Linked DNA regions of Homo sapiens. The protein of the gene in region 1 interacts with the protein of each later gene in a biochemical or structural test. Each region holds a gene or a part of one and is shown on either strand. Other genes may lie near its edges.

Region 1 (3,822 bases):
GGCAATCCGGATCTGTAAATGTTAAAGATGATGATCCCAGAGAGAATGCTTAAGCTGCTTTCTCGAACGGCTTGCAGGTGTGTGAAGACAGTGTTAGTGATGGCTATAATCTCCATCTTGGAAGATGCATCCATCTCTAAGATTCTCCCTCTGGACTGTGGCCACTCTGAGGACCTGTCACTCTGTCATCAGAGTGATTTGGCACCTAGTAGGAGGTCAAGTGCTGCAAATTACTGATAAATTAAAGGCCATGTCTGTTTTTCTCTGGTGTAGGCATATGCTACTTAACCTGCTGCCCCTCATTGCCCTTTCCAGACCAGGCTAGGCTCACCTGGAGAGTTGAGAATAGAATGACAAACCTACAGATTCCCCTGGGTGGGGTCTAAGTCTTTTATCCCCTCTGAAGTAGGGGTGGTTTGGAGAAAAGAAGGAAGAGCTGGGTGGTTTGGAGAAAAGAAGGCTGTTTTGGTGCAAGGCCAAGCTCCCTTTGAAACGCGAGTATCCCGATCTGTGTTCGGGACGGTGGGAGCTAGAACCTCTCCTTAGGGGACGTCCTGGGGTGGGGCGTTTCTGCCAAAGTTCATAGCCTGGGAATAAATCCAGGGGCTTGTGAGCTTCAGAGAAGGTATCTGCAGCTGTCTTTGAACGACCTCCTCAGGTAGCAGAGCTGAAGACGAAACTGGACGCCGCGGAAAGATTCCTCAGCACGCGGGAGAAGGATCCGCATCAGAGGCAGAGAAAGGACGACAGGCAGAGAGAGGACGACAGGCAGCGCGACCTGACCCGGGACCGGCTGCAGCGGGAGGAGGTGGGCGGGGCCCGGGTCCTCGAGCCCGGAGGATCCAAATAAAAGCAAAGGGGCGGGGGGATTTCCTGTAGAAAACCTACCGTTTTATTAAAATCAACTCACTACTGAGCAACGACCGATGTGCAAGGGTGCATGGGTTACGCAAGTCCCCAAGAGCCATGAACAAGGGTCACTTCTCTAGAATAAGAAGGAAGGAGATTCTCTGCCGGCTTCCTCCTGGTTTGCATAAATAGGCAGACAGTCATTCCCCAGTCCCTTCCAGGAAGAAGAAAACGGATCCATAAATTTGCTAACTCTCTAGGGCATTTCAGCCTAGGAGAAATTTTTTTTTCTTTTGCTTTTATTCGTATTTATTATTTTTATTAGTAGTGTTCATAATAATAATATGGCAATACCTTGTATTTGTGCAGTAGCTTTTCAAGCTTACAGAGAGATTTATATATGAGGTCTTACTTCTGTCACCATAAATTTATGACATTTTTTAAAGCCTTCGTCCTCATTATCTCATTTAACATTCTTGGCCCACCTGTGAGCAAAATATTATTTTTGCTATATTAAAAATGAGAAAGCTGAGATGTAAACAAATTGAATTGCCCACGTTGATGAAAAAGGACTTGAACCCAACCTCCAGATTCTAAAGCTCTATCAGTCCCTTGCTGAGAACTGGATGGTGACAATTGAGATGACAGCTTTTCCTGAAGAACACTTTTTCTTCCTGGTTTTACTTTCAATTATTGGACTTCATGAATATTGTAGAAAATGGGAGGAAACCTTAAACTCTAATGGCCCCTCGTTATTTTAGGTATAGTAAGAAAAAACAAAGTGTAAAGACTCTGAGGGGAAATCTTATCACTGATATCGTGAGGCAATGGCAATATTTTAAAACATGTACAAATCTTAAGGCAATGTCTGAAATTCGCGCAGACAATGCCAGTCCAGGTTTTCCTATCTTGCTGAGGATGTCTTTGTCACAGTGAGTCAGGAAAACAGAGTTTAGCAACACTCCCTTTCTGCCATGTAGCAGTCATTTCCTTTTCCAATTACACTCTAGCCAGGAATCTGAGTAATTTTTCCCTCAATGCAGTTGGGACCATTATCTTATTGGAATAATTTTCTCTTAAATTATGCTAAATTAGAAAATAATTGGCTTATTTTCTAAGTGTATATGTTCATTCTATTTAAATAAAAGCAAATAGAAATATTTTCCCTTTTAAAGAAAATGAATTACCTAAAGCGGATTTCTTAAATTTAATAATCATATTGGGAAATATTAGTTACTCAAATAACACACTTTAACACATATATTAGCTATTTTTGCATGTCAAGTTACCTATTTTCTGCAATATTTATTTTACTGGGTTAAAATCTCAATCTCATTAAGAATCCAATTTACTTCACAAAATGTTTGCTATCTATTATACAAAATTAAGAGGTAGGAGATATTGTCTGAATCCAGAGCCTGTTGATGTTTACGCAGCTAACCTTCAGTTGTTTAAAACACTGCACTTCTGGATGACAATTTTAGATTGTCATCTAAAATTGGAGGAGTGGTGGCAGTTGGACTAGTTGATTTCTACCTTTTAAAAATAATAATCACAACAATAGAGTGCTCTAAATAATGATCTGTAATGAAAGGTCTTATTGGCCTAAGGATTATTCTCTTTTCCCTCTTTCTAATACAGAATGATGCAGGAATGAGCTTTGAGATATTTAGTATTGTTTTCTCACAATGAGAGTTTTTTCTTTTTAAGACTTTCAGCTATTTTTCTTAATCACTTATCCATCACCTAGTGACAGTATATAAGGACTTGCTTATCCTGCAGACCCATTTGTCTGATAATTGAAAGTAAGAATTGGGAATCCAGCACTTTGGGAGGCTGAGACGGGCAGATCACGAGGTCAGGAGTTTGAGACCAGCCTGGCCAACATAGTGAAACCCCATCTCTACTAAAAAATATAAAAAATTAGCCGGGCGTGGTGGCAGGCACCTATAATCCCAGCTACTAGGGAGGCTGAGGCAGGAGAATTGCTTGAACCTGGGAGGCGGAGGTTGCAGTGAGCTGAGATCACACCATTGCACTCCAGGCCGGGAGACAGTGTGAGAATTCGTCTTTAAAAAAAAAAAAAAGAATTGGGAATTTTGATTTTTTTTTTCCTGGGGTCACAAAATTTCTAAGATACTTCAGTAAATTCTGATAAAAGAAAGATTCCTTCAATCCTAATTCTAGTGTGCATCCAAAGAATATTGCTCAAATGGAACATTAAGTTTAAAGTCTTGCAGGTCCTGTTTTTATTGTATTTCAGAAGGGTGACCCCTCAATCTGCCTGCCATGGCTGATATATCAGAATTCCTACAATATCATCTCATTTGACTTGTACTGACTTTTATTTTCTTTTCTTGGTCTTAACTTCAGAAGGAAAAGGAACGCCTAAATGAAGAATTACATGAATTGAAAGAAGAGAATAAACTTTTAAAGGGAAAAAATACTCTTGCGAACAAGGAAAAGGAACATTACGAATGTGAAATAAAACGCCTCAATAAGGTATCAGTCAGGTCAAGCATGGGAGATTAAAATGAGAAGTCCCTGCATAAAACATTCTTACTGACAGTCGCAACAAAATCTAGGCTGCAGTGTGGGTCCCAGCCTTGGAGGCTTGCACAAGAAATTATCTGTGATTTTATAAATCACTCCTAGCTGCAGCTTTCAGTCATACTTGGCTAAGGAGGCTTTAGAGAATTTTTGTCCCTACAAAGATTCATCATGAGAAAGAGAAATGAGGAGGAATTACAGAGACAGTAAGAACATTTCTTAGTTTGAAGAACCACATAAAGCAAGTGGGTGTTTGCGAACAATAACGTATCTCTTGGTCAACCGCAAAAGCTTCCTCAGGAAACAAACTGCTCTTTAAAATGATCACTATGGAGTTGGGTGTGAAACACACTCTAAGGAAGCATGCTAAATGCAGAATCCAAGGCTGAGATGATAGCTCTCTCAAGTGCAAGCCTAAAACCT
Region 2 (3,822 bases), on another chromosome or scaffold:
TCATATCAACTTACAATACACAATAAAGTAAACATTCTGCATTTTAATTTATTTTTGTTCTAACCACTCAAATCTAGGATAATTTTCAGGAAGACCCAATCCAGATGTCTATGATCATTTACAGCTGTCTGAAGGAAGAAAGGAAAATTCTGGAAAACGCCCAGAGATTTAATCAGGTACTTTTTTCTCATTGAACACATAAACTGTAATAAAATAAAAATGTATTCATTCATCAAATACTATTAGGGCCCATGTCAAAGCAATGATGAATATCTCTCTAATTTTATAGCCCCAAGAAGTGGGAGAATCAGATTTAGAGATTTTATAGAACCAGGCTTTAAGAAAGATCCTAATCTAATGGAATTAAGTTCTAACGAGGAGAGAGAACATATAAACAAGATACTTCTGGGTAGCATAAAGTGCTGAGAAGATAACATGCTGAATTCATGGAGTGGCTGGGAGTGGGGTTGTTCCTTTAGATCAGGGTCAGGAAAGGCCTCTGAGTTGCTGGCACAGGAATGGAAGCAGGCAGATAGAGGGTTCTTGCAGCTGTCCAAGGTAGAGGCAGTGGAAGCTTGCGCTCAGTAGAATCAGTGGAGGTAGGAAGAGGTGGACAGATTCAGGTTATGCTTTGGATGTGATACCAATATAGAAGGATCCTTATGTTGAAGGATTAGATGCAGGAGTGAGAGCAGAAAGTCAAGGATGGCTCTACAGCAGCTACTAGAACCCCTTGAAAAATGGTAATGCTGTACACGGAGCTGGGAAGGCAAGGAGGGGGCAGGGGCAGGAGTTTTGTAGGACTCAATAGGTTTGTGGAGAGAAAAGGAGGCTGATGGGAAAATCAAGGGCTTTGTTTTGAGCAACATCAAGATACCTATTAAATATTCAAGGCATCAAACAGTAAATGAGTCAGAGTTGTACTAGTATCAAGATTTTTGATCATTGTTTTATTAATCCTAATACAAACCTTCCTAGTTGTCAGGGTTCAGCAGAGTTTTGAATTTGCTATGGCATTTAGTATTCCTTTCTTGAGCACTGGGGTGGTGACAACAAGCCAACAGGCAGGCAGTGTGAAGCCACCATGTTATGGATTGTTCTGGAGGAGCCCATTGCTATATGGATGCCAGAGGACACAGTATGCATCCTGTGTGCATTTCACCAACAAATAACTACCGAAGTGAACTGTGTGACAGTGGAGAGGGAGGGAGTTTAGGTGTGGTGGAGGATGCCATTCTCCACACACTGCCTGAGCATTTGTCCCAGTCCTTGTAATCCTGTCACTTCCCTAGGCGTATAGTTCCCATCTTCTTGTCACACTGATAGCATCTTGCTGAACTGAGCATGTAAAGATACATATTGCTTATTCTAAACTCAAGCTGGCTAGCTCATCTGGTACCCAGCCTAGGGAACAAAGGTGTATATCAACGCTGGAGGAGAAGCTGGCCAGGTTGTCTCCTCTGAAAGAGGTGTGCCTGTCTCTAACCTGGCATATACCTGGGAGATTTTCAGCCGGCAGTTTTGATTATATGGGGCTTCCATCCTAAAAGTAGTATGCGTGGGCCTCCTCTGTATTTCTAATAGACTTGAAAGGACAGCCAGGAGCAAAGATGGGCAGAAGGACAACCTGTTTCCCCCAGCTGCAAGCATGTCATCCTCACATTTGGCCCCTTGGCCCAGAGATGGCATTGGCAGCAGAGTAGGTGACCCCTGCTCTCCCACATGAACCTCATCCCCTGGCTTTGGATCTTGAAGGTTTACCAGCTTTTGAGCTCCCTCCCCATTAAAAATGTAGGTAATCTGGGGATTGTTTTGAGCCTCTCAGAGGACACCTGAGTCCGTGAACACCTTTGCAAAGCCTTCTTGGGGTGTGAGGGAAGTTTCTGGGTGTCTGGGGATGTCAGGGAAAGGGAAAAGGCACAATAGGTGCCTCCTTTCCAAAGTTATCCAGCCAACTATTGGCTAGGTAGGTCAGAAACATTTCTTCACCATTTCCCCCCTTGTTGAAGTAACTTTATTTTATTAATACAGACATGCATCACTTAATGACACAGATACATTCTGAGAAATGCACCACTAGGTGATCGCGTTTTTGTGCAAACATTATAGAGTGCACTTACACAAACCCAGGTGGTATAACCTACCATACACCTACACTATATGGTAAAGCCTATTGCTCCTAGGCTACAAACCTGTACAATATGAAGTTGTACTGAACGCTATGGGCAATTGTAACACAATGTTATTTGTGTATCTAAACATAGAAAAGGTACAGTACAGATAGTGTGTAAAAGATAAAAGGTGGTACCCCCATAAAGCTCCATTCTAATCTTATGGGGCCACTGTCATATACGCGGTCCATCGTTGACTGAACCATTGTTATGTGGTACATGACTGTGTATATTCTATTCATGCTAAAGTATATGTGTATGGAATGGTGTGATGTCTGGTATTTGCTTCAAATAATCCCATTTGGGGACTAGAAGAGTAAGGAGAATAGGGATGAAACAAGGCCATCCATGAATGCTAATTGTTGAAACTGTGATAGGTACATGGGGATTCAACAGATTCAACAAGTTAAAAACATGCAAAATTCCGAGTTAGTTCAGATCATTTAGAGACCACAAAATTCTATAGACATGCCGAGATGGGAAATTATTGTTCCCATTGTTTTTTAATATAAGAGCTTTTAGAAAATACATTTAAGAGAATATTATGCTATACACACTGTAGTAGACTATAAATGTTTCGTGTGCTGTCTTACAGCACACTAAGTTTTTTTCTTTCTTTTTTTCTTTGTGGTGAAAAAGCTAGTTGCATGTCTAGACAAAAATTTAGGTCCATAGGGTCTGAAGGGATGGGGAGAATTTCTTTCAGGTGGGAGGGAAAGACATGAGGTGGATTCTAAGCTTCCTTTGCTGTTCCATCTTTGTGTTCTTAAGGACTAATGGTTACCATATGCTGAGTGCTTATCATGTTTCAGGCCCTGTGCTAAGCACTTTATAAACATTATTTCATTTGAGTAAATACTTTCGAAACTATCACTGAAGTTAGGTATTCTTATCCCCATTTTAAAGATGAGAAAACTAAGGTTTAGAGGTCAGGTACTTCACTCAGAGCCACAGAGCTAATGAGAAGTAGGTTTGGAATTTAAACCCAGTATTGTCCAACTCTAAAACTAGTTCACTGGAGAAGTCACTTTTCAGTTTTCTAATCTGTGGGATGGGATATGAGGGCTTTCTGGCTGGAACTTCTCACACCCATGGAGTGCCTATTCCCTTACTTGGACAACTGCTCACTCCATTGGAAAGGACCCCCTTCCTGAGCAGAAGACTTTTCTTTGCTCTGGGGTCTGGAGTAACCAAGTTCCCATCCAAACAAGGTCTCTAGAGGTACAGTAGTGAAACGAGAAAGTAAGAGTCAATGACAGCCGAAGTCCCTTCCAACTTCAGTGTTTGAAATTCCCGTGGTTTCAGTACTCCTGGTTTCTTAGAAAGTTAAAAAGTTAAGGACTCACTGTGAAAGTGGTATCAGTACTAAAGTGTACAGGAGCAGCCAAGCATCTGCTTAGCAGATGGGGGCAGGGTGGAGGGAAGCAGGGAGGGATGAGTGGAAGGGGTAAGAGAGCACCAAGGGTTTGAGTGACTTGGAGGGACTACTGCCCAAGTTGGAAGCAGGAGATTTCTTAGGCCCTGCCACAGTCACCAGGTTTTTCCACCAAGCATCTCCCAGCAAGTCAGTAGAAAGGGGATGTAGAAGCTGGGGATGTAGCTGCTGTTTTACAGCCATTGTTTATATCCCTGTTCTCTAAACCGAGCCTTG

Evidence for each region.
Region 2: the proteins of TNIP3 (region 1) and STAT1 form a complex in vitro, tested with the Homo sapiens proteins (one study listed by BioGRID).

What each region holds. Positions count from the first base shown.
Region 1 is NC_000004.12:121,154,080-121,157,901, reverse strand, and holds part of TNIP3 (TNFAIP3-interacting protein 3), read left to right. Parts: intron 1-658; coding exon 659-808; intron 809-3,222; coding exon 3,223-3,351; intron 3,352-3,822. UniProt on the Homo sapiens protein: Binds to zinc finger protein TNFAIP3 and inhibits NF-kappa-B activation induced by tumor necrosis factor, Toll-like receptor 4 (TLR4), interleukin-1 and 12-O-tetradecanoylphorbol-13-acetate.
Region 2 is NC_000002.12:191,003,917-191,007,738, reverse strand, and holds part of STAT1 (signal transducer and activator of transcription 1-alpha/beta), read left to right. Parts: intron 1-77; coding exon 78-176; intron 177-3,822. UniProt on the Homo sapiens protein: Signal transducer and transcription activator that mediates cellular responses to interferons (IFNs), cytokine KITLG/SCF and other cytokines and other growth factors.